2 separate regions of the Homo sapiens genome follow, and region 1 is linked to region 2. The links come from fine-mapping of genetic effects on gene expression. A gene starts in region 2. The other region holds a variant in brackets. All regions are shown on one strand. Distances are between the middles of the regions. Region 1 overlaps FAM151B (family with sequence similarity 151 member B). Region 2 holds the start of ZFYVE16 (zinc finger FYVE-type containing 16).

Region 1 (12,964 bases), 93 kb before region 2:
AAAAGGGAAACAACCAATGTCTACCAGTTGATGAATGGATAAACAAAATGTGGTATATCTACATACAAAAATGATTCAGTCATAAAAAGGAATAAAGAACTGATACACACTAGAAAACAGCTGAACTTTGAAAACATACTAATTGAAGAAGCCAGTCACAAAAGGCCACATAGGAAGGTGCTTCCCTGAATTTTGATTCTGGAGTCAGGAAAAGTCTTTTTGAGGAAGTGACAATTCAGCCGATACCAAAGGATCAGCTTAAGGGGTTAGCAAGGCAGAGTGTGGGGAAAAGAGCTTTCCAGGAAAGAATGTGTGTGACAGCCCAAGGAGGAGGGAGCGTAGCCATGCAAGGCACTGCTGTGAGGCCAGTGTGGGAATTTCTAGGAATGTGAAAACACTGTGAAGGTGGACTTGGAGACACAGGCCAGTCTGTGCAGGCCCTTCAGGTTATTGAAGTAGTTTGAAGATGCCAATAAATAGCACCCCTTTCTCCAAATGGATCTGTTTTTTGTTTGTTTGTTTTGAGACAGAGTCTCGTTCTGTCGCCCAGGCTGGAATGCAGTGGCATGATCTCAGCTCACTGCAGCCTCTGTCTCCTGGGTTCAAGCAATTCTCCTGCCTGAGCCTCCCAAGTAGCTGGGATTACAGGCATGCACCACCATGCCCAGCTAATTTTTGTATTTTTAGTAGAGACGGGGTTTCTCCATGTTGCCCAGGCTGGTCTCAAACTCCTGGTCTCAAGCAATCCACCTGCCTTGGCCTCCCAAAGTGCTGGGATTATAGGCGTGAACCACCACACCTGGCCTCCAAGTGGATCTTGAGAAATAAAATAGCCAAGTTAAGTAGACAGGGATCAAAGTATACTTGTATTACCTCTAAAGCTAGGTCAGAGGACACAGCTTAGTTGAGAACTAAATAAGCCTGTGCCTGCTACCTGCTAACTGCCACAGTCACCCTCTAGTCCAAATCTTGGAACAGCCCCTTTGAAGCAAAGTTCTAACAAATACAAATATCCAGATGGCTGCTTCCCAGTGGAAGAGAAGAGCTCACTCCCTTGTCCAGCACATTTTTTTTTTTTTTTTTTTGAGATGGAGTCTCACCCTGTTACCCAGGCTGGAGTGCAGTGGCATGATCTTGGCTCACTGCAACCTCTGCTTCCTGGGTTCAAGCAATTCTCCTGCCTCAGCCTCCCAAATAGCTGGGACTACAGGCATGCACCACCATGCACAGCTAATTTTTGTATTTTTAGTAGAGACGGAGGTTCACCATGTTGGCCAGGCTGGTCTCGACCTCCCAAAGTGCTGGGAGTACAGGCGTGAGCCACCTTGCTTGGCCTAGTGCATTTGATAGATTAGCTCCACCCAGTCAAGAACTACAAATCAAAACAATCTCTCAACCTCTATGAGAGAAATAAACAGTGAGGCAAGAGGTCAAAGCCTTTAGGGAAAAAAATCTCTCCTCTTGGAAACCAGAGCAGTAGAACCAAACATGTTTCTATCTAGCAATTATATTAAAGATTTTAAATGGAACACCATTTGAGACCAATAAAGAGGCTTGATTTATGTTTAAATATACCACTTTGGATGCTGGGTGGAAAATAAAATAGACAGGGGCAAGTGTGGAAGCAGGGAAAATAATCTATCCAATTAGGATGGACTCATAGATCTACTGGATGCTTCTGGCGGCAAATAAATAGAAATTCAGATTCAAGCTAGTAGATTTATCATCTCAAATAACTAAAAGTCCAGGGGTCAGGTGAGCTTTAAGTGTGGTACAATCAGCAGCTCAGTGATGTTATTGTGATCTTTATGTCTCTTTTCTTCACTGTCCTTGGTGTCGTCTTCATCGTAAGGCTAATTTCATCTCATGATTTTAAGACAGCTACCAATAATCACTAGGGCTACATATTTTCATGTTCACATACTTCAATTTTAAGATATAAAACTTCTTTGGTAATTATAATTACTTTACTTGAGTCTAATTGAGCCCAGTTTGATCACTTGCCCACCATGGGAGCAATATGAATCATCAGGAAAACTTCAAGTGCTGATTAACTTATTGTAATGCACCCCTGGAGCTACAAATGGAACCAGTTTCCATATGCTTGTATGGAGCAGAAATGGATACCTTAATAAAAGTAAAGTTCTTGGCCGGGCGTGGTGGCTCACACCTGTAATCCCAGCACTTCGCGAGGCCAAGGCAGGCGGATCATGAGGTCAGGAGTTCGAGACCAGTCTGGCCAACACGGTGAAATCTCGTCTCTACAAAAAATACAAAAAATTAGCCGGGTGTGGTGGTGTGAGCCTGTAATCCCAGCTACTCGGGAGGCTGAAGCAGGAGAATCACGTGAATACAGGAGGCAGAGGTTGCAGTGAGCCGAGATTGTGCCATTTCCCTCCAGCCCAGATGACAGTGCGAGACTCTGTCTCAAAAAAAAAAAAAAAAAAAAAAAAATTCTTATAGGAAGAAAGAAAAGGGGACTGGTGATGTAGTAAGAACTCAATGGATGTGGCTGGGTGCGGTGGCTCACGCCTGTAATCCCAGCAAGTTAGGAGGCCGAGGCGGGCAGATCACGAGGTCAGGAGATCGAGACCATCCTGGCTAACACAGTGAAACCCCGTCTCTACTAAAAATACAAAAAATTAGCCAGGCGTGATGGCGGGTGCCTGCAGTCCCAGCTACTTGGGAGGCTGAGGCAGGAGAATGGTGTGAACCCAGGAGGCGGAGCTTGCAGTGAGCCGAGATCGTGCCACTGCACTCCAGCCTGGGTGACAGAGTGAGACTCTGTCTCAAAAAAGAAAAAAAAAAAGAACTCAATGGATGTTTGCTATGTCTCTCTTCTCTAAGCTATACCATATTTAGGATCTTTTAATTACAGTGAGGCAAAGCATAAAATAACAAAATGGCTGGGTGTGGTGCTCACACCTGTAATCCCAGCACTTTGGGAGGCTGAGGCAGGAGGACTGCTTGCAGCCAGGAGTTTGGGACCAGACTCTCTACAAAAAATAAAAATAAAGAAATAAACACCAAAACACCAAGACCAATCAAAGAGTTTTATACTCCTTTTATTCTCTATCAAATGCAATTCTAAGCAATGTCCAGGTACTATCCAAACAGCTTCCAGCCCTCTGCCAAAGGTGGAATTCTTCAACCATGTGAATAGTGCTGAGTCCTGATGTTTGTGTGGCTTATCTCGCCAGGGGGAGGGCAGATACAGAGAAGTTGTTCTTTCACCCTATGGCCAAACTTCTGCAAGGACAACAGGGCAAGTGAATTTGCAGAAAGATAGATGATCTAGTCTTTTATTATTTTCCCAGGATGAAGTTGGGGAAGGGGGTTGTAGGTCTCCTTTATCAGTGTGGTTATAAAGGGGCACAAAAGCTTGGAATCTTTCATTTAAGAGTGATAGTCTAATCCCAGCACTTTGGGAGGCCAAGGAGGGCAGATCAGGAGATCAGGAGATGGAGACCATCCTAGCCAACATGGTGAAACCCCATCTCTACTAAAAATACAAAAATTAGCTGGGCATGGTGGCACATGCCCATAGTCCCAGCTACTCAGAGGCTGAGGCAGGAGGATGGCTTGAACCCGGGAGGCAGAGGTTGCAGTGAGCATAGATCGTGCCACTGCACTCCAGCCTGGCGACAGATCAAGACTCCATCTCAAAAAAAAAAAAAAAAAAAAAAAAAGAGTAATAGTCGCAGTCTGCTAATTCCATTATTTCCAATAGATAGAAAAAAAATCAGTAAATGGGCAAGTTGAGGAGTCTCTGGGCCCATGTAAAGTATGTTCCTAAGGTCTCCTACATGAAAAAAAAGGGGGAACTACAGCAGTATGAGCAAGAAATCCTGGTGGCTTCTAGGATAATGATAAGAAAGATGGAAAGAAAGATGTGGACTAATTCAAAATGTATTTTGGAATAGAATCATAATGATTGGATATTAGATACAAGAATAAAGAAAGGAGCGAAAAAATGACTCCTAGATTTCTGGTTGAAACATCTAAGTAGATTGTGGTGCCATTTCCTGAGACAAGAAAGATCACAGGAAGTGCAGGTTAGTAAATATAGTCAAGAATCTCATTTCGGATAACGTAAATTTGAGACGCATGAGAGATCTCTAAGTGGAAACATCAATAAGCAGTTGGATGGACTAATATTAACAGTCCTAACAAGAGAGGGAGACCTGGCCTGGAGACACAGAAGATACAGAAGCTGCCCAGCCCCTCTCCCTAGTCTTCCATCCATAGCCTGTGGGTAGAAGACTTTTAAAAGTCAGGGCACACTTCTGCTTGGGAGACTGCATGGTTCTAATAGTCTCATATAACAGGGACAGCAAGAGGAGGAAGTCTGTATATCAAGGCATACGTTGCCTCACCCACAGGAGCTCCAGCTTGTGACCATGGCCAGACTTTGCCTTGCTTCATCAACTCCTGTTCAGCATAGCAAAAGTAACTTTTCACCATCCCCAGGCTATGATGGCAAAAGGGCTTTGTATATACTATTATTATACAAATTGTAAAATTTTTTAAGTTGTATTTCTAGATTTTCAGTTATTAGAAAAAAACAGAATTTATTTTCTATTTTGACCTTGAATCCTGAGATTTTCTTTTCTTTGCTTTCTTTCTTTTTTTTTGAGACAAGGTCCTCACTCTGTCACCTAGGTTGGAGTGCAATGGTGCAATCACAGCTCACTGCAGCCTCCAGCTCTTGGGCTCAATCGATCCTCCTGACTCAGCTTCCTGAGTAGCTGTGACTACAGGTACATGCCACCATGCCCGGCTAATTTTTCTATTTTTTGTAGAGACAGGGTCTCACTATGTTGCCTAAGCTGATCTTCAACTCCTGGGGTCAAATGATCCACCCAACTTGGCTTCCCAAAGTGCTGGGATTACAGGCATGAGCCACCGCCCTGACCACATCCTGAGATTTTCTAAGTTCACCTATTTATTATGATCATTTATCTATAGAATCTTTTTTGTTTTCTATAAACACAATCATACTGTCTGTGAATAAAGGTTTTATTTCTTCCTTTCCTATCATTTTTTTCATTTTTAAAAACTGAGACATAATTTACATACTATAAAATTCACCCTTTTAAAGTGAACCCTTTAGTGGTTTTTATTTAGCGTATTCAGAAGGTTATGTAACTATAACCACTCTCTAATTCTAGAAAAATTTCATCATCCAAAAAAGAAACCCTGTACTCATTAGCATTGACTCCTTACAGTTCCTGACAATCATTAAGCAACCATTTCCTGAGGCATCAATTTTGCTAAAATTCATTTACTAAATAATCACTGTGTAGTTATTATATGCTACGCACTGTTTCAGGCATTAAGGATTCAACATGAAACAAGACAAAATTCTTCCTTTTGAGGAGAAAAATACAATTTAAAACAGTGTTTTGACAATAAAAGAAGCTGAGATATATAATGAATTAGGATGCAAAAATGCATACACTTTTATAATAAAATATGGAATTTCAAGGTAATTTCTTGTTGGACCAGATACTGCAAGCTCTGCCCCGGCCCTGTAGTGATATGCTTTCTTTCTCCTTTCCTGCTGCAGCCAACATGAGCACTTTATAGGAAAAGGCTGAGAAACACTGCTATAATGTTCATCTGTATAATGAAGGGATATACATACAATGATTACAGGTTGAATCAGTAAACCAAAGACTTGATTTCTAGCTTAGGCATAAATATTGCCCAATTATTTATTAATTATAAATTGGTATACAATGCCTTCATCCATCCATTGAACAAATATTGAGTGGGTTTCTCATTAGTACATGATGAAAGACATAAAAATATGTAAGATACATGGTCCTGATCTTAAAAGTTTTACTCAAATCACTACATACATAAGAAAATATAATAATATATGAGAGTTTCGAATCAGACATAACAGGCAAATTGCTTCTAGAAAATAAGAAAATTCTTTCATTATGCAATTTGTCCATTTTGTAAACAAAATGAAACACTTTATAAAAATGTTCAGCCTGGTGTGATGGCTCACAGATTACCTGAGCCCAGGAGTTTGAGCCTGCAATGAGCTGTGATTACACCTTTGTTTTCCAGCCTGGGCAACAGAGAGAGACTATGTCTCTAAAAATGAATAAATAATAATTAAATAATAAATAAAAATAAATAAAATACTCATGTCAGCCTGGAACTTACACTTGGATCACCTGTCTCTAGTATCTGCAAATATACCTAGATATCAAAAAAGGAGTTGAATTAATCTATTATCCAAAGTAAATTACAAGTAACTGTACTGACTTACTTTTCAGTGCCTCATTTGTTTGTGCCTTGTGGTTAGCTGCATGATACCAGGTGATCTCAGCACCGTCTTCTGCTGTAATCTGGCTATTTCTCAGAAAATATTCCAGTATATTTTCACTCCAAGATCCTAAAATAACAGTGTTTACATGAAAAGTGATATTGTTTTTTATAGGGTAAAATTTTTAAAATCACTTTCATTGTGTATATTTAAGATACACATATGCTGTTATGTGATATATATATATAGATAGATAGATAGATAGTAAAAAGGTTACTATAATGAAGCAAATTAACATATCCATCATCTCACATATCTGTTTTCTCTGTGTGGCAAGAACAGCTAAAATCTCATTTAACACGAATCCCTTATATACAGTACAATTTTATTACCTGGAGTCCTCATGTTGCACATTAGATCTTGACTTGTTCATCTTTTTTTTTTTTTTTTTTTTTCAATTTGAGAGCAGGTACTGTTTACTAACTGACCAGCTTAGAAAAATAATC[A/C]TGGTAGACATCTTATTTCATTCTTCTAGTAAGCCTGTTGATCTGGTCCTCCCTGTTGCCAGCATCTCCACCTTCTACAAAATGGGTGGTCTCTCGGCCGGGCGCGGTGGCTCACGCCTGTAATCCCAGCACTTTGGGAGGCTGAGGTGGGCGGATTACCTGAGGTCAGGAGTTGGAGAGCAGCCTGGCCAACATGGTGGAACCCTGTCTCTAACAAAAATAAAAAAAAAAAAATTAGCCAGGTGTGGTGGCACACGCCTGTAATCCCAGTTACTCCAGAGGCTGAGACAGGAGAATCGCTTGAACATGGGAGGCAGAGGTTGCAGTGAGCTGAGATCATGCCACTGCACTCCAGCCTGGGTGACAGAGTGAGACTCTGTCTCAAAAATAAAATAAAATAAAATAAAAATGGATGGTCTTTTTCTTCATTCCGCCTCATGGCGAAGATAATTTGAAGGGCCACAGCAAGTTATTTGCTTCTTTGAAGTGTTTTCCAACAGTATAGATCTCATGAATCAGATCCTCCATGCAGAGGATGCCATATTTACCAAGAGATGGAACAATCAAAGTGTTATCTGTTAAAGCAATTCGCTTCTTATTGATTTTGCCATAACCACGCTTGTAGATTAGTTCATTTACTGACTTCAGATTTGGGTACCCCCATGCTATATATGGCTCTACAATCCTCAGCATGTTAACTGAAGCCTGTTGAGCTTCACAAAGGTTCCACTGAAGATTTGATGAAGGCGAAGAAGCTGCAACACCTTTCGGACCTTTGGGCTCACACCACTGACACCTCTGATCCTGAGGACAAATGCCATTTTGGGTTCTGCAGGTACACAGAAGTTGCCAGCTTTTCTCGCCATCCTTGCCATTCAAAATTCAGTTCTGTATATCTGCCTATATTCCTTGTGACAGTGTTTTGCTTTTTCACAGATAAGCTTCCTCCTTGCCTTTCAAAGCATCTTTTGGGTAAACTTCTTTCTCAGGCACTTGATCTTCAGCTCTGCGAAATTCCCTTGCTTTTTCTTAAGGGTTTCTGGCACAGCAGGAACCTTCTCTTTCTCTTCTACACCCTCCATGGTTCCAGCCGGAAAAAGAGGCAACTTGCTCATCTTATATATCTGTTCTGTATGCTCTAACCTACATCTCCCCATTTCCTTTGCTTCCCCCTCCCCATAGCCATTGTTTTGTCATCTATTTCTGTTATATTTGATTTTTTTTTATTCCACATATAAGTGAGATCATACACTATTTTTCTTTCTGTGTCTGGCTTATTTCACTTAGCATAATGTCCTCCGGGCTCATCCATGATGTGGAAAATGGTAAGTTCTCATTCTTCTTTAGGGCTGAATAATATTCCATTTTATCTATGTACCACAGTTTGTTTATTCATTCATCTATCAACAAACACTTGTTGCTTCCATACCTTGGCCACTGTAAATAATGCTGCAATGAACATGGGAGTGCAGATATCTTTACAAAGTGGTGATTTCATTTCCTTTGGGTATGTGCCCGGAAAAGGGATTGCTGAGTTATAGAGTAAAAAAAAAAAAAAAAATTAACAAAGAACAGACAAGATATTGAGGGATAATAACAAAATAGTTAGGCTGGGAAAAATATAAGATTTTAAAAACAGAGAACAAGTATTATGATGTGGCAAGTATATAATATATATAAACATGTTATATATTATATAATGTAATAATTAGTAGACATATAGGATAGTCTGAACATCAGAAGCATAAGAATGCAGGAAGAAAACAAAACTAAAGCAGATATTTAAAAGCTGGAAATTTCATATGATGTTCTCTACAATGCTGGTCCAGAAATATAAGGAAAACTGATGTAAAGCCAAAGCTATATTTAAAATTCTAAGTTTTACACACTTAATTGTTTTCTCTACCTGAAACCCCATTCTATATTTATATTAACAATTTAATATTTAAATTGCATATCTTACTGCATATCTACCTTCAGATTATTCTCAGCAACATCTATATGAGTGAGCAAGTAATCTCTTGAATTAGCATTCATAAGTTTATCTAGCGTGTGCAATATACATAATTCTCATATCTTTCAACTACTTTTTGGTATAACATATTTTCTCTTGATTAAGCATTAAAACTTGTGAGTTAACCAAGACTAAGGTAAGTGGTAGCAAAAATATCTGAACCCAGATCTATTCCATACTATATCATAACATAAAAGAAGAAAATGCTGAAAAAAAGTTGTCCATAATTTTACCTCCCTAATCCTTGTTCATGCTTCAAACATTTATTAAGAGCCTAGCAAGTGCCTGCAAATTCCCCACGCATGAGATTCTTTCCTCTGTTAATTATTTGTTTGTTAACTCTGCCTAACTACAGTTAAAAACCTAAAACTACTTTTTTTTTTTTTTCCATCTGCCATCTGTGGTGGAGCTGCCACCAAAATGCAGATTTCGTAAAAACCCTTCCGGGGAAGACCACTACCCTCAAGGTTGAACCCTCGGACACAATAGAAAAGGTAAAGGCCAAAATCCAGGAATTCCTCCTGATCAGCAAAGACGGATCTCTGCTGGCAAGCAACTGGAAAATGGAGGTACTCTGTCTGACTACAACATTCAAAAGGAGTCTACTCTTCATCTTGGGTTGAGACTTTGTGGTGGTGCTAAGAAAAGGAAGAAGTCTTACACCACTCCCAAGAATAATAAACACAAGAGAAAGAAGATGAAGCTGGCTGTCCTGAAATACTATAAGGTGGAAGAGAATGGCAAAATTAGACACCTTTGTCGAGAGTGCCATTCAGATGGTGCTGGAGTGTTTATGGCAAGCTACTTTGACAGACATTATTGTGGCAAATGTTGTCTGACTTACTGCTTCAACAAACCAGAAGACAAGTAATTGTCTATGAGTTAATAAAAGACATGAGCTAACATCTTTTTTAAAAGCCCCCCAAAAAACCAAAAACCTTAAACCTAAAAATGGCTATCGGAAACTGCTGATAAGATATCAGAGAATGGAGGGGCATATAAAGACAAATTCTAACTAACATACATGGGACTTAGCAGTCACTTCTAACGCTGGGCTGCAGAATTTAAAAAAAAAAGGACAGTTAGGTGGAGGATCCACTATCCCCAAAGCAGTCTCTCACTGAAAACACGTGGCCCTATTTGGCATATATAATAGAGTCATAGACCTTTCATACTGAGATGGCAACACATGGCCATCATTCTTTAAAATATTAAGGTAGCCATTTTAGAAGGCACATTATTGATTGGCTATAACAAATGTCCAACAATAGGAAAATAATTAAATCACAGTACATATGCATGATAGAATATGTGACTAACGTGGCTGTTAAAAATGAAGGTTTTGAGATACACCAAATGATTTAGAGGACTGATAAGCATTACATTACCAGAAAAACCTAAATGTTGGTTAATGGTTCATATTGGATATTTCCACAGCACTTTTTATTTATTTATTTATTTTTTATTTAAGTTCTAGGGTACATGTGCACAACGTGCAGGTTTGTTACATATGTATACATGTGCCATGTTGGTGTGCTGCACCCATTAACTCGTCATTTACATTAGGTATATCTCCTCATGCTATCCCTCCCCCCTCCCCCTACCCCACGACAGGCCCTGGTGTGTGATGTTCCCCTTCCTTCCACAGCACTTTTCAACTAAACATACTGCATTCAGAATTTTTATAAAGGCAACTTACAGAGTAATAATAAAATACCAGGACTCTAGAATTTAAAAAAATTTAAAGTAAGAAGTTTTCCTTACCCTTTTACTAAGTGAAATTGTTAGTTTGTATTTAAGCCACGACTGTATATATCTTAAAACTTACAGAGGATCCAATTACCTATGATCTAAGGTCTTAGTATTATTATTTAAACAGGCTGTAACTCTGAAAACAGGGCCAAGAGAAAGGCAAAAATAGTTGTAACTTTTTTAAGATTGAGTTTTTGAGTAGTTTTTTTATTGTTTTTGTTTTTTTTTTTTTTTGAGCCGGAGTCTTGCTCTGTCACTCAGGCTGGAGTGCAGGGGCATGATCTCAGCTCACTGCAATCTCCGCCTCCTGTGTTCAAGCAATTCTTATGCTTCAGCCTTCTGAGCAGCTGAGATTACCATCACATCGGCTGCTTTTTGTATTTTTAGTAGAAATGGTGTTTCACCATGTTGGCCAGGTTGTTCTCAAACTCCTGGCCTCAAGCAATCTGCTGCCCTTGGCCTCCCAAAGTGCTGAGATTATAGGCGTGAGCCACCGTGCCTGGCCTTTTGAGCAGTTTTCATTTACAGAAAAAAATTAGGCTGGGCATGGTGGCTCACGCCTGTAATCCCAGCACTTTGGGAGGTCGAGGTGGGCAGATCATCTGAGGTCAGGAGTTCGAGACCAGCCTGGCCAATATGTTGAAACCCCTTCTCTACTAGAAATACAAAAATTAGCTGGGTGTGGTGGCTCACGTCTGTAGTCCCAGCTACTCAGGAGTCTGAGGCAGGGAAATAGCTCGAACCCAGGAGGTAGAGGTTGCAGTGAGCCAAGATCACACCACTGCACTCCGGCTTGGGTGACAGAGCAAGACTCCGTCTCAAAAAAAAAAAAAAAAAAAAAAAAAAAAATTAAGCAAAAAGAGCAAAGTTCCCATATCATCCCCACTCTTCCCTCGATTTCCCTGGTTTTGGCTGTTTTGGTAATTTAAAAATTGCTTTTATTTAAAGCTCCCCAATTTTTAACATCTTGCATTAGTGTGGTATGTCTGTTAGAATAGATGAGCCAATACTGACATTTTGTTAACTAAAGTCCATAGTTTACATTAGAATTCACTCTTGGTATCATACATTTTATAGGTTTTGACAGATGTCTAGGTGTACATCTGAGATAGAAGGTTCAGTTATGGGCCACTGGAATAAAGTGAGTATCACAATAAAGCAAGTCACACAATTTTTGGTTTCCCAGTACATATAAAAGTTATGTTTACACTGTTATACTGTAGCCTATTAGTTGTACAATAGCATTATGTCTAAAAAAATGTGCATACCTTAATTTTAAAATACTTTATTGCTAAAAAGTGTTAACAATCATCTGAGCCTTCCGCTAGCTGTAATCTTTTAACTGGTAGAGGGTCTTGCCTCAATGTTGATGGCTATTGACCAATCAGGGTGGTGGTTGCTGAAGGCTGTGGTGGCTGTGACAATTTCTTACAATAAGGCAATGAAGTTATCGACATCAGTGGATTCTTCCTTTCATGAAAGATCTCTCTGTGGCACACAATGCTGTTTGATAGCATTTTACCCACAGGAGAACTTTCAAAATGAGAGTCAATTCTCTCAAACTCTGCTGCTGTTTTAACAACTAAGTGTATGTAATATTCTTTATCATCTGTGGTCATTTCAACAATGTTCACAGCATCTTCACCAGAAGTAGATTACATCTCAAGAAAATACTGTCTTTGCTCATACATAAGAAGGAACTCCTAGTTCATTAAAGTCTTATCATAAAATTGCGATAATGTAGTCACATCTTCAGGCTCCATTCTAATTCTAGTTCTCTTACTAGTTCTTTTTTTTTTTTTTTTTTTTTTTTTTTTTGAGACGGAGTCTCGCTCTTTCGCCCAGGCTGGAGTGCAGTGTGGCGCATCTCGGCTTACCGCAAGCTCTGCCTCCTGGGTTCATGCCATTCTCCTGCCTCAGCCACCCGAGTGGCTGGGACTACAGGCGTCCGCCACCACGCCCGGCTAATTTTTTGCATTTTTAGTAGAGACGGGGTTTCACTGTGTTAGCCAGGATGGTCTCAATCTCCTGACCTCATGATCCGCCTGCCTCAGCCTCCCAAAGTGCTGGGATTATAGGCATGAGCCGCTGCGCCCTGCCCTCTTTTGCTATTTCTATCACATTTGCAGTTACATCCTCTATTGAAGTATTGCATCCCTCAAAGTCACCCATGAGAGCTGGAATCAACTTCTTCCAAACTCCTGTTAATGTTGATATTTTTACCTTCTCCCATTAATCACAAATCTTCTTGATGGAATCTAGGATGATGACTCTTTGCCCACATCCATCAGAGGAATCACTATCTATGGCAGCTATAGATTTACAAAACATTTCTCAAATAATAAGACTTGTAAGTCAAGATTACCCTTTGATCCACGGGCTGCAGAATAGATGCAAGCATGCAGGAAA
Region 2 (12,964 bases):
AAACATGAGACAAATCTCAACTGACATTCTACAAAACACCTGAGCAGTAACCCTCAAAACTTTCAAGAGCATCAAAAACAAGGAATGTCTGAGAACTATCACAATCAAGAGGTGCCTAAGGAGACAGGACTACTCAATGTAATGTGGTATCCTGGATGGGATCCTGGAACAGAAAAAGCATATTAGAGGAAAAATGAGGAAATGCGAATAAAGTATAGCCTTTAGTTAATAAAGTATCAATACTAGTTCACTAATTATAACAAATGTACCATATTAATCTAAGATGTTAATAATAAACTGGGTGTGGAGTATATAGGAACTCTATACTGTCTGCAATAATTCTGTAAATCTAAAACTGTTCCAAAATAAAATGTTTATTTTTAAAAATGCAATCAAGGTGTTATAAAATAAAGTTGAGAAAATATCCTAGAAAACAGAACAGAAAGGGATAGAAAACAGGAGAGAAAATATTAGAAATTAGAGAATCAATCTAATGAGGTTTAATATTCTAATAAAAGAAGTCCAGAAAGAAGGAAGGGAGGGAAAGAAGAAACTGTCAAATAAACCACGGATATGGTCTCCAAATGGAAAGGGCCCATTTGGGGCCCAACACATGAATGAAAAACTCTTACCAACCAACATCATTGTGAAATTTCAGAACACCTGAATGGTTGAAGGGAGGATCACCCCATTTAATACTACAGTCTGCATCCCCTACCTCTCCTTTCCCCAACATTCCTGAACTTCCCACCCCAGCCTGCTCTTTTTTCTCTTTTCTAAAGCAGTTATTTACTTTACAAACTCCCAATGTTTTGTATAATTTATTTATTATATTTGCTGTTGAACAACTCCTCCCTCCCTGAATTTAAGCTCTATAAGGACATGAATCTTGTATTTTTGTTCACCTATATATTCAAAATGTCTTGACCAGTGCCCGGCACATAAAATGTGCTCAATACATACTTGCTGAATAAATATAAACGCTTCCAAAGAGATATAACAGGTCACAATCAAAGGATTGGTTATCATAAATGTGAGGGTTAAATAAAAAAATGGTTGACCATGCAAGAACCCAAAATATGTGCATCCCATTCTGTCTCTCTCAGGAAGCTACTCAAAAACATACTCTGCCAATATAAGGGAGACACCAAGAAAAAGGAAAACCTGAAATCCAAGAAAAAGAGGCTACCCACACAGAAGAGACAAATGCAATTCACAGATGACTGTAAAAGGGCAGTCCAGGAAGAGAGTTGTGCAACAGGCCTAGAGAGCAACCCATCAAGATGGAGGCAGGAAAGATGTCGCAAAACAGATTATCAGATGTGTTTGAATCTACTAAGAGGAGACTGATGTATCTGGTTCAAGAGATTAATAGATCAAATAAAGAATACAAAAGACACATTAAAAAGATATAAAACATTTATTTATAAAGAAATATAAAAGGTACATGTACAAAAGAATTAAGATATTAACTAGGAAAAACAAAAATTATACAAGAAAGGAAATAACCTCACACTTACCTTGTTCAGCTACATACAATATTTACATAGTTAAAATGAGGTAAACACCAAATAACTAAAAGTTAACATGTAACTAATTTGGGAATATAGAGGGGAGAGGGGAAGTGAAATGCAGTGTTTAAAGGTAGGAGTTGGTACAAAAAACCTAAACTCCCATCTTCTGTAATAGGAAATGAGTAAACTATACTTCAAATCGCATTAGGATGGGAATGGGGAGGGGATATCGCCATATATCTAAATATGTCATTTTAAAAAACTGGAAGTGATAAGGAATTGAAGTCACTGACTCTGGAGCAGCCTTTCTCAATTAAGGTTCGGCGAGAGAATTAATCTTTAATGCCCTAAGGCTTCCATTTTATGTAATAAACTAACTTCTCTCCTATGCATCCATCATATTATTAGCTACCTACCCTCTTTGGGAGAATTAAGAAAATAGTTGCTCAAATCATTTTTCTTGTTCAGTGATTCAGACAGAAAGCACTGATTGAGAAAGACTGCTTCTGGAGAGTGGGATTCAGGGGTGAGAAGGACTGGGGCAGAAGATTGTTGTTTTTCTCTTTTTTTTTTCTTTTTTTTTTTTTTGAGATGAAGTTTTGATCTTGTTGCCCAAGCTGGAGTGCAATATCGCGATCTCAGCTCACTGCAACCTCCGCCTCCCAGGTTCAAGCGATTCTCCTGCCTCAGCCTCCCAAGTAGCTGGGATTACAGGCATGCGCCACCATGCCTGGCTAATTTTGTATTTTTAGTAGAGATGGGGTTTCTCCATATTGGTCAGGCTGGTCTCGAACTCCCGACCTCAGGTGATCCTCCTGCCTCAGCCTCCCAAAGTGCTGGGATTACAGGCATGAGCCACCGCACCCAGCCCTCTCTTCTTTTTTGAGACAGGGTCTCACTCTGTTGCGCAAGTTGGACTGCAGTGGCACGATATTAGCTCACTATAGCCTCCACGTGCTGGGCTCAAGCGATCCTCCCACCTCAGCCTTCCAAGTAAATGGAACAACAGGTGTGTGCCCCACAACCCAGCTAATTTTGTTTATTTTTTGTGGAGACAAGGTCTCACTATGTTGCCCAGAATGGTCTCAAACTCCTGGGCTGATGTGATCCTCTTGCCTCAGCCTCCCAAAGTGCTGGGATTACAGGCGTGAGCCACCACACCCAGACAGTTTTTCATTATAATCCTTGAAGTACTATTTGACTGTTTATGTACAGGTATCCCTTCGATAAATATAAACATTAAATTTAAAATAAACATAATAGTAAAAAGTAGTAGTAACGGAACTCTGAATACAGGATGTATTTAACAAATTAAGCACAGAAACTGAAAGGTCTAGAAATAGTTTCTTATTAGCAAAAGCCAGAGAATTTTTTAGAAATAAATTATGGAATTCATTAAATAACATATATTTACAAAACATTCCTATCTATATAGCAATGCTCTACTAAGCATTATGTAATTTCAGGTGCCAAGAAAGATATAAAAAAAGATAATATAATTTGTAAAAGGTATGATATGACAATGTAAATACGGTATACTGAAATGTTTTAACATGAAATCTCATTAAGCTGTGTATATTTCCCATTTCAATCAATCAGTATGTACTTTTTGTGCCAATAATCTACCATATTCAGTATAAGACATAAAAGAAATATAAGATATACTCCCTTTTAAAATAGGTTTATTTATGTATACATATAACTTATTTTAGGTAGTATTTTTACTCACTTGGCTATTTATATATTTTTAAATTTAAGAAAAAATCTTCGTAATATTTACAATAAAATGGTTTTTAAAAATCTCTTCATGATTACAAAAATTGGCAGTAACATGGAAGATTAACCAGAAAACCAACAAAACCAACAGTAAGGAGACACCTAAAATGGTTAAGGTAAGAGATGAAGGCCTGAGCTGAGATAATGCAGTGGAGAAAAAAAGGAAATACATATAAAGGTGGCTAAAATGAGCCAGGCATGGTGATGCCCGCCTGTGGTCTCAGCTACTCCAGAGCCTGAGGTGGGAGGATTAGCTTGAGCCCAGGAATTTGAGACCAGCCTGGACAACAGAGTGAGATCCTGTCTCAAATAAAAATAATAAAATGAAATAAAAGTGGCAAAATAATGAGAAGTTTTGGAGACCGAAAGCAAGGGAGAAAGCTGGATTAGTGCCAGGTTTCCACCATGAGTGGCTAGGGTAGATGGTGGTGCCACTGACCATGACAGGCAATACAAAGAGGAGCAGGATTAAGGGAAAACATGAGTTCACGTTTGGACTGTTTGAAGTACCTTGAGAACATCCTGGGAGAGATATCCAAAAGGCAGCTGAATATAAGAATCTGGAATGCAGGAGAGAAGTCTGAGATAGATAAAGATTTGGGAACTGGCAACACACAGCTGTTAATGGATGAGATCACCTAGGAAGAGAATATATTTAGAAGAGGACAAGAGCCTGCCATCAGATAACTAAAGATCACAACTCATGTTCCTAAAACCACTCAGGATAAAACTTTGCCCAGTTATATGTACTTCAGTAGAAAAATATCCAATATATAATGTTAAATGAAAGAAAATCAAATCACAAAACTTTATGCATAGTGCAAACCTATTTTTACAAATAAGTTGTAAAAAAAATTAACAAATGCATAGTAAAAAAATATGAAGGAACAAACATTAATGATGTTAGTAATACTATAAATCTAGGAATGGGATTATGTAAGCCTTTCAGAGCTACATGATATGTCTTCATACTATTTTACTTTTTTTTTATAAGCATATACTTGGCCAGCGTGGTGGCTCATGCCTGTAATCCCAGCACTTTGGGAGGCTGAGGTGGGCAGATCACAAGGTCAAGAGATCGAGATCATCCTGGCCAACATGGTGAAACCCTGTCTCTACTAAAAATACAAAAAAAAAAAAAAAAAAAAATTAGCTGGGCGTGGTGGCACGTGCCTGTAGCCCCAGCTACTTGGGAGGCTAAAGCAGGAGAATCGCTTGAACCCCAGGAGGCGGAGGTTGCAGTGAGCCGAGATGGTGCCACTGCACTCCAGCCTGGCGACACAGCGAGACTCCATCTCAAAAAACTAAATCAATAAAAATAAAATAAATTTAAAAAAAAAAGGCATGTGCTCTTGTAAACCGAGAAAACATAATTTTGTTGTTTTCCTTTAAAAAAAAGTACAGCACGTTTCCTAAGGTCGGGTGAGGTGGCTCGTACCTGCAATCCCAGCACTTTGGGAGGCCGAGGCAGGCGGATCACAAGGTCAGGAGATCGAGACCATCCTGGCCAACATGGTGAAACCCTGTCTCTACTAAACTACAAAAATTAGCTGGGCATGGGGGCGCGTGCCTGTAGTCCCAGCTACTCAGGAGGCTGAGGCAGGAGAATCCCTTGAACCCGGGAGGCAGAGGTTACAGTGAGCCGAGATCACGCCACTGCACTCCAGCCTGGCGAAAGAGCGAGACTCTGTCTTAAAAAACAAACAAACAAAGTACAGCACGTTTCCTTACAATATATTTAAGAAGATAAAAATGTGTTAGAAAAACACTTGGATACTGGACTATAAACGAGCAAATAACATCAACAGACAACTAGTAAGATTATGAAAATTATTCAGTGCACTATCAAAGTAATGAGAATTAGAACATATACCATTTATTGCCTGCTAAATTGAAACAATTTTTTAAAATAATAAAAGTACTCGATGTTGGTAAGGGTGTGATTTTTTTTTTTAAAGCATGTCAGACACTGCTGACAGGAAACAAACTGGTACTATCTCCCATGAAAACAATGTGACAATATGTACCAATAGCCTGAGAAAGATTCCTAATATTTGATCTAACAATTATCTTTTTAGAAATTTTAGAAAAGAATCCATGTGTTAAAGCTCTCTTAAAATGTATCTGGCAGTTGTCTGGTTTTTACTGGACTCCCCCCAGCCCCCTCAAAAAGAAAATAATTCAAAACAACTAAAAACATGCAAAGATATTTCACCAAATCATTAGTTGAAACAATCTAAACACCAACATTAGTGCACAAAAGCAAATTATACAGGCATCAAAAGTAATGTGTTTAACAAACTTAAAAAAAAGCAAAACTCTATGACCTAGCAATTCTACTTACAGAAAAAACACTAGCACGCATACACCAGAAAACATCACAAAGAACTTTCACTGTTGCAAGGGTTGTAACAGTGTAAAATTTTAAACAACCTAACAGCCCACCAATCCAAAAATGGTTAAATCAGCTTTCTCAAACTGTGGTCTCAGGACCCCTGGATGTCCCCAGGAGCCTTTCAGCAGGCTTGTAAGATCCTCGCTTTTCCTGCTACGTATCTGTTCAAGGCTGGTGTTTTCTTCATATGCTTCAACCTAAACCAGATAGCACAACAGACTGAACAGAAGCAAACATGAAAATCCAGCTGTCTTCTATAATGCCAGACATTAAAGTGATTCGCAAAAATTTGAAACAATGCCACGCTCCTCTTCTAAGTTTTGTTTTAGAAAATGGTTACTTTTCACTAAAAAATTATTTAATACATGAGTCTGTGATTTTTAAATGAATAAAACATTTTCAATTTTCTGAGTTTTAATTTCCAAAATGGTAAATATACTGCAGCATTAGGAACCAAAAACTCTATTGGTCCTCAATAATTTTTAAGCGTAATTATCCCCAATCATAATGTTAAATGAACTGTAGCACTATTCTATCATGTAACATTATGATTGAGGATAATTAATGCGGATTTGGCTTTATCTGTAATATAACTGTTTCAAAAGATACTTTGCTCATGTATAATCAAGAAGTCATTTTTATGAAGCTTTTTAAAAACATGGGGAAATGCTTACAACGTAATTTAAATCAAGGAAAGCAGACAATCCAACGATATAAAATCTCATCTCAAGAAAATGCACAGGGGAAAAAAAGACTCAAAGGAAAAAAGTCAAAATATTATAAGTAATTGATTACTATTACATGGTGGAATTATGATTGATCATTTTTCCTTATTCTTTATTCTATTTTTTCAATTTTTGCCACTAAGCATGCGGTTTAATATCCAGGAGAGGAAAAAAAGGAAGAAATTAGGCGAAAAATTATATATAGTTCTACTGGATTAAACCATTAAACTCCCGCCAACTCAAGAGACGACAAGCTCAAGTGAATAAATGGAGGAATCTGATTGAATCAACAAAGTGCCTATTTTTTGAATTGAAAAGATTAACTTAATATCAAATGTATGGACTGGTTTTCATACAAGTCAAACTAATAAGAAAGAACATCCTTAGTCTGGAACATAATATTTGCAATCACGATAGTACAAATAAGAGTTAAAAATAAGGTCCTCTTTTGGAGTTCTCAAAAGTACCAAAGGAAAGGCAGCGGGAAAGACGGCCACTGCATCCTTCTGGTCTCTAACCAAGAGAAAATGCATGGGTGCGGGAATGGACAGTGCGAGAGCACCGGCGGCGATGAGACTCCTCTGCGGGGACCGAGCCTCTGCCACTCCTGAAGAACCACAGTCCCCTCCGCAGTCGCAGCCCCTCCCCAGGCGGGACGGCGGCGCCAGGGCGCTTCTCCCTCCGTCCGCTGGGGTCTCTCCCCCAGGAGCGCCGAACACTCCGGCGGCCCGGGAGCGGGGAACCGGGCAAACAGCCGCCGTGATTGCCCTCCCGGTCCAGTCCGGTCTGGCCCTTCAGGCTCCAGGAGGGGACATCAGATTGGAGGGCCAGGGTTCCCCGGCCAGCTCCGGGGGCTCGGAAAAGGAATCGGTCGGGGCCCAGGCTCTGTCCCCAGAGGAAGAGGGCCAGACCCAGCGCCCAGGTCGGCGGGTCCAGCGGTCACCCCGCCCCCCTGTGGGAACAGCAGGGCTGAGGGGAGGCCGAGACGACCGGTCACGGGGGGCTCTTACCTCCCTACAGCCCCTGCGGAGCTTTTTGGGAACTCGACACGACGTCGCGCTGAGGAGTGAAGAGCTACCCCGGCCGGGAGTCCTGGGAGTGCCAGATCCCGGCTCAGGGCTTCTTTCCCCGCCCCACCGGGCAGCGCAGAGAGCGCAGGCGCAGAGGACGCTTTCCTCTTCGGCTCACACGCCCCCTCCCTCGGCATCCGCGGCCGTCTCCAGGCCCGGGGCGCTTGCGCACTACGACGCAGGTTCCGAGCCAAGGGCACTAGATTTCTTACCGGAAGTGCCTGAGTGGGTTGTTGGGTGACGGGGACGCCTGATGATTCGACCTTAGGTCGGGACTCGGTTCTCCACTCGACTGCGGGATCGGGAGGCCACTCGCGTCAGTGTCTGACTTCCTTTACCCTTCGCTAACCTAGAGGCAGCTTCCCCGGCTCCAGCCTTAGCCCTTTGCTGAGCCTGCGCGGCGTTCCGGTCTCTACTGGACAGACCCGCCTTCCCGGCAGCGGGCTAGGCCTGCTCTCCGCGCTGCTGGCCCCTCGGAAAACATAACTTTTTGTTTACTTCAAACTGATTTTACAACACGCTGCCCCCCCGCCTCCCCCGCTTCCCCCGCTTCCCCTTCCTCCTCCCGGCAGCAATAAAAATGCTCCCAGCCAACGCCGAGCTCCAAGCCCCTCCAGCTGACTGGACATTCCCAGCCACACTTTCCTTCCCTTCGCTGCGTTAGTTCTGCATTTTTATTTTAAAGCAGCTGGTAGAACAGCTGTCTCCCTGTCTAAAAGCAAAAGCTGACTTATCTGATGTAGAAATAAAATGTCACTCACTTGATGTATATTTGCTTGTTGAGTTTTGCTATTTTTACCACAAGTTTCCTATAAATTTAAATGAGACCCGGCGCGGTGGCTCACGCCTGTCATCCCAGCACTTTGGGAGGCCGAGGCGGGAGGATCGCTTGAAGTCAAGAGTTCCAGACAGGCCTGGGCAACATAGCAAGACCCTGTCTCTACTAAAAATGAAAATGAAAAAATTAGCCAGGCGTGTTGGCGCGTGCCTGTAGTCCCAGCTACTGGCTGGGAGTCTGAAGTGGGAGGATCACTTAAGCCCAGGAGGTCAAGGCTGCAGTGAGCTCTGATGGCAACACTGCATTCCAGCCTGAGCAACAGAACCAGACCGTGTCTCTAAAAAAATAAAAAATAAAAACAAGGGAAGAGACATACATGTGGGATCAGATACAGACAGATACAGGGAAAAAGCAGTTCCTCAAAGGTTAAACAGCTCACAGTTCATACTGATCTTTCAAAAATCGCAAGAATTGGCCGGGCGCAGTGGCTCACGCCTGTAACCCCAGCACTTTGGGAGGCCGAGGCAGGCGGATCACCTGAAGTCAGGAGTTCGAGACCAATCTGGCCAACATGGTGAAACTCCGTCTCTACTAAAAATACAAAAATTAGCTGGGTGTGGTGGCGGGCGCCTGTAATCCCAGCTACTTGGGAGGCTGAGGCAGGACAATCAGGACCATTGAATGAACCCAGGAGGCAGAGGTCACAGTGAGCCAAGATCGAGCCACCACACTCCAGCCTGGGTGACAGAGCAAGGCTCCGTCTCAAAAAAGAAAAAAAAAAAATTGCAAGAATTATAATTTTTCGAGTATTCCAGCCACATGTGATTTGTGATGAAAGATTTGAGAATCAGGGTTCGCATCTTAAATCTGCAGTTTACAACTATAGTTCCTGATCTTTGAAAGATACTTAATCTTTAACCTTGGTTTTCCTAAACAACAAAATGAAATAGCCAAACTTTTGATTGCCTAAAGTAATGTGTGTATTGAGCATCTGCTTTGTGACAGTGTGTTAGATGCTTTGCTTACGTTATCTCATTTAATCCTAAGAATAATTCTACAAACTACAGTATGCCTTTTTCCTACTATGTGTTAGGCATTGTTCACAGATAAAATAAAATGGGGCCACTGCCCATGGGGAACCACAGTCTAGTAGCAGAGACTCACATATACAAATGCATACTGGGGACAGAAGTATTTATACGGTAAAGTGTGAGGGTAAAGAGAATAGAAAAAAGACACAAACACCTTAAATAGATCAATGGGGAAAGTATATACAATGGTCAGTTCACAAAATATGAAATTTAAATGCCTACTACACATTTTACCAATCAATATTCAAAGTCATTAATAATAAACAGAGACAAAAAAGAGGTTGTCTGGCATCTAATTACCCAATCTGTTTAAAATGTGAATAAACTCGATTGGTGACAGAAGAGTGAAGTGGACACTTATACCCTGGGAGGGATATAAATTGGGACAAAGATTTTGGAAAGTTATTTGTCAAATCATATCAAGAACCTTATGAGTGTTCACATGACCCAATTTGATCATTTCTCTTTTGGAAGTTATAAGAAGGTAGTCCAGAAGACGAAGATCTCTATGGAAAGATACTTAACCATAGTAAGTAAATTGATAAAAGTCGAAAATCCACCATTAAGAGAATGGTTAAAATAATTACTGCATGTATGTGATTAAAACTATTAAAATTATGTTTACAAAGAATTTTTAATGGCCTGAGGAAATTACCTCATGAAAAAACATTTTAAATATTTAAAAATATTTAACATTGCCTATGTAGTATGAGGTCAGCTATAGTATACAATGTATGTAAAAGAGTGAAGAAAGTATATCAAAATGTTGATAGTAGTCATGTCTATCTGATTAGAATGTAGATGTTATTATCCTGGACAGTCTACATTTTCTACAACATCTATATATTACCTTTATATTCTGGGGAAAAAGAAAAAAACCTCTAATGTAACAAGTGTGATAAGTTGACCAGGAAACCTAAGAATCCATTTCCCCTGTCATTTCAAGTATGGTCTTTAGAGTCTGATTACCTGAATTTGAATTCTAATTCTATAACCTATTAGTTGTGTGGCCTAAATTTTCTAAGCTTGATGCTCCTGTAGTCAAATGCTAATAGAACTAATACATTGATTGAGATAATCCACATAAAGTACTTAACTGAAGCACTGACTGTAAATGATGAATAACTGTTATTCTTTTTTTTTTCTTTTTTTGACAGGATCTTACTATATCACTCAGGCTGAAATGCAGTGGTTGGATCATGGCTCACTGCAGCCCCAACTCCTGGGGCCCAAGTGATCCTCCTACCTCAGCCTCCAGAGTAGCTGGGACCACAGGCGTGCATCACCATGCCCAGATAATTTTTATTTTTATTTTTTTAAAGACAAGGTTTCACTATGTTGCCTATACTGGTCTCAAACTTCTGGGCCCAAGCAATCCTCCCAATTAGAATTCAAATTCAGGTAATCAGGTAGTCAACCTCCCAAAGTGCTGGGATTACAGACATTAGCCACTGTGCCAGCCTAACAATTGCTATTCTTGATGGTTATATTTCTTTTTATAAATTGATCAGTTACATCCATGTTGTTATATCAGTAGCCTATGAATTTGGCTAATGCAAGTATAAGTTCCCTGGAGCACAATTACTTGCAAATACATTTTAAAACTGAATTTCTTAGTCTACTAAACTGAGAATAAGATACAGGGACTTGATGACCACTCCACATGTTTGTCACTATATGAAGACTCGTTTGCTCTGTTTTTGTTTCTGTTTTTGTTTTTTAAGGAGAATTAATAAGTTTGTTCATATAAAATTTGTAGCCTTTGATTACCTTTTAATGCCAAATGTCTACTAAAAATTTAATCTGCTAACAAAGCAATTGCAATACTTTTAGTAGATGTTTAGAATTATAATAACCTTTCCTAATTATGCTTTGAAAGAGTATTTAATTTGGGTTCCACAAAACTTCTGATCTATAAAGTAGTAAAAATAGATGAAATCAACCAACAAACCAAAGTTCAAATCAATGACTACTACTTTAGCCCAATAGTTCTCTGTGGAGGTGAGGGGTGATTTTGCCTCCCAGAGGACGTTTGACAATCTCTGGAGGCATTTTTGGTTGTCACCACTGAAAGAATGCTACTGATATCTAATAGATACAGGCCAGGGATGCCGCTAACTGTCTTGCAATTCACAGGAGAACCCCCAACAACAAAGAAGTTTTCAGCCTAAAATATCAACAGTGCCAAGGTTGAGAAACCCTGATTTAGCCAGTGAGTGGTTTAAAGCTAGTATATTTCTTCCAATTCCTAGTAAACAGTTCCTTTTTTTTTTTTTTTTCTGATGACCACAGCGGCACAAATGTGAGTTCAGAAATTCAGAACTGGGTTTTGAACTTCTACATAAGGCCCTATACCAATGAAAATTAAACTTTGTACCAAGTAGTACCCAAAGTTAACTAGATTAGAGATAAAAAATCTACAATGACCAGTTTTATGGAGCAGACAGCTGGTCAGTTGTACTCTGGCACAGAAAAATGCTCCATTCCTATTGTTCAGTTGCACCAGACACACGTATCATCACTTATTACTAAGAACCACTTTATAAATAGCTGTCATTTATTGATCACCTACTGTTTTCAGCCTTTATCTTATAAGTAAACCAGGTGTTCTCGCAGTATGAACATTGTTGCTCATCCATAAACAAAACCTGAAGTTCAGGATTTCTCCCTGCTGTTATAACTACTTTGTTAAGTACAGGCTGTTATAACTACTTTGTTAAGTACAGCAACACTTACTGGTCAAGGCCTTTATCAAAACAGCAAACTGAAGAACACACTCTCAACAGCCCATTCTCCTTTTGTACAAAGTGCTATAATTTAGTATTGGTTCTTGTGAGAGAGGCTTTTCAATTCTCTAAGGAAAGTTTTAGTTGTGGTGCTCAGATAATCGCTGTAGATCCTTGTATTTAATACAGCAACTGTATTTACTTAAAGTTATAAAGTCAAAAAGCTCAAATAACCAATATTTTTTCTGAGTTCTTTAGAAATATATGACAAACAATAAATTAATGACATAGCAATGATTTGTTGATAAACATAATAAATCTTATGAGCTTTCTATATCAACAGTAAAAAAGAGGAATAACTGGTGTTTAATTCAACAAACACTTATTCATTTTTTTTTTGTTGTTTTGTTTTGTTTGGTACAGGGTTTCACTCCCATTGCCTAGACTGGAGTGTAATGGCTCGATCTCGGCTCACTGCCGCCTCAACCTCTGTGGCTCAAGTGTTTCTCCTGCCTTAGTCTCCCAAATACCTGGGACTATAGGCGCATGCTACTGCACCTGGCTAACTTTTGTATTTTTTGTAGAGGCAGGATTTCGCCATGTTGCCCATGGCTGGTCTGGAACTCCTGGGCTCAAGCCATCCACCGACCTTGGCCTCCTGAAGTGCTGGGATTAGAAGAGTGAGCCACCAAGCCCAGACAGTTTATTAAACATAATTGCATTGTTTTTCCTATTGATCTTGCAGTCATTGCAAGATCTTGCAGTGCTTTTGAATTGACAAAGAAAATAGAGATAAAGTTACATGAATTTTTAGAATTAAATTGTGTTTTATTATATTAAGGTGATTTCCTTAACCATTATAATAAATGAAAGCTTATTCAATTAACCT

What was found. PIP is the estimated chance that this variant, and not a neighbour inherited with it, causes the effect.
Region 1: its variant is the best candidate, but not a certain one, in a credible set for the expression of ZFYVE16 in whole blood (TOPMed, PIP 0.59).

The regions. Positions count from the first base shown.
Region 1 is chr5:80,495,240-80,508,203 of GRCh38, reverse strand. It overlaps FAM151B (family with sequence similarity 151 member B), which reads right to left. Exons shown (of 6, transcript NM_205548.3): 2 at 6,287-6,412. It also overlaps the pseudogene RPS27AP9 and the pseudogene RPL7P24. Among named protein-coding and RNA genes, the nearest start is that of FAM151B, 14 kb to the right of the region's middle. RefSeq lists enhancers at 593-1,093, 10,506-11,006. The variant A/C (reference allele first, on the strand shown) is at 6,790.
Region 2 is chr5:80,402,610-80,415,573 of GRCh38, reverse strand. It overlaps ZFYVE16 (zinc finger FYVE-type containing 16), which reads right to left and starts at 7,510. Exons shown (of 19, transcript NM_001284236.3): 1 at 7,421-7,510. RefSeq lists a silencer at 6,910-7,029 and an enhancer at 6,750-7,548.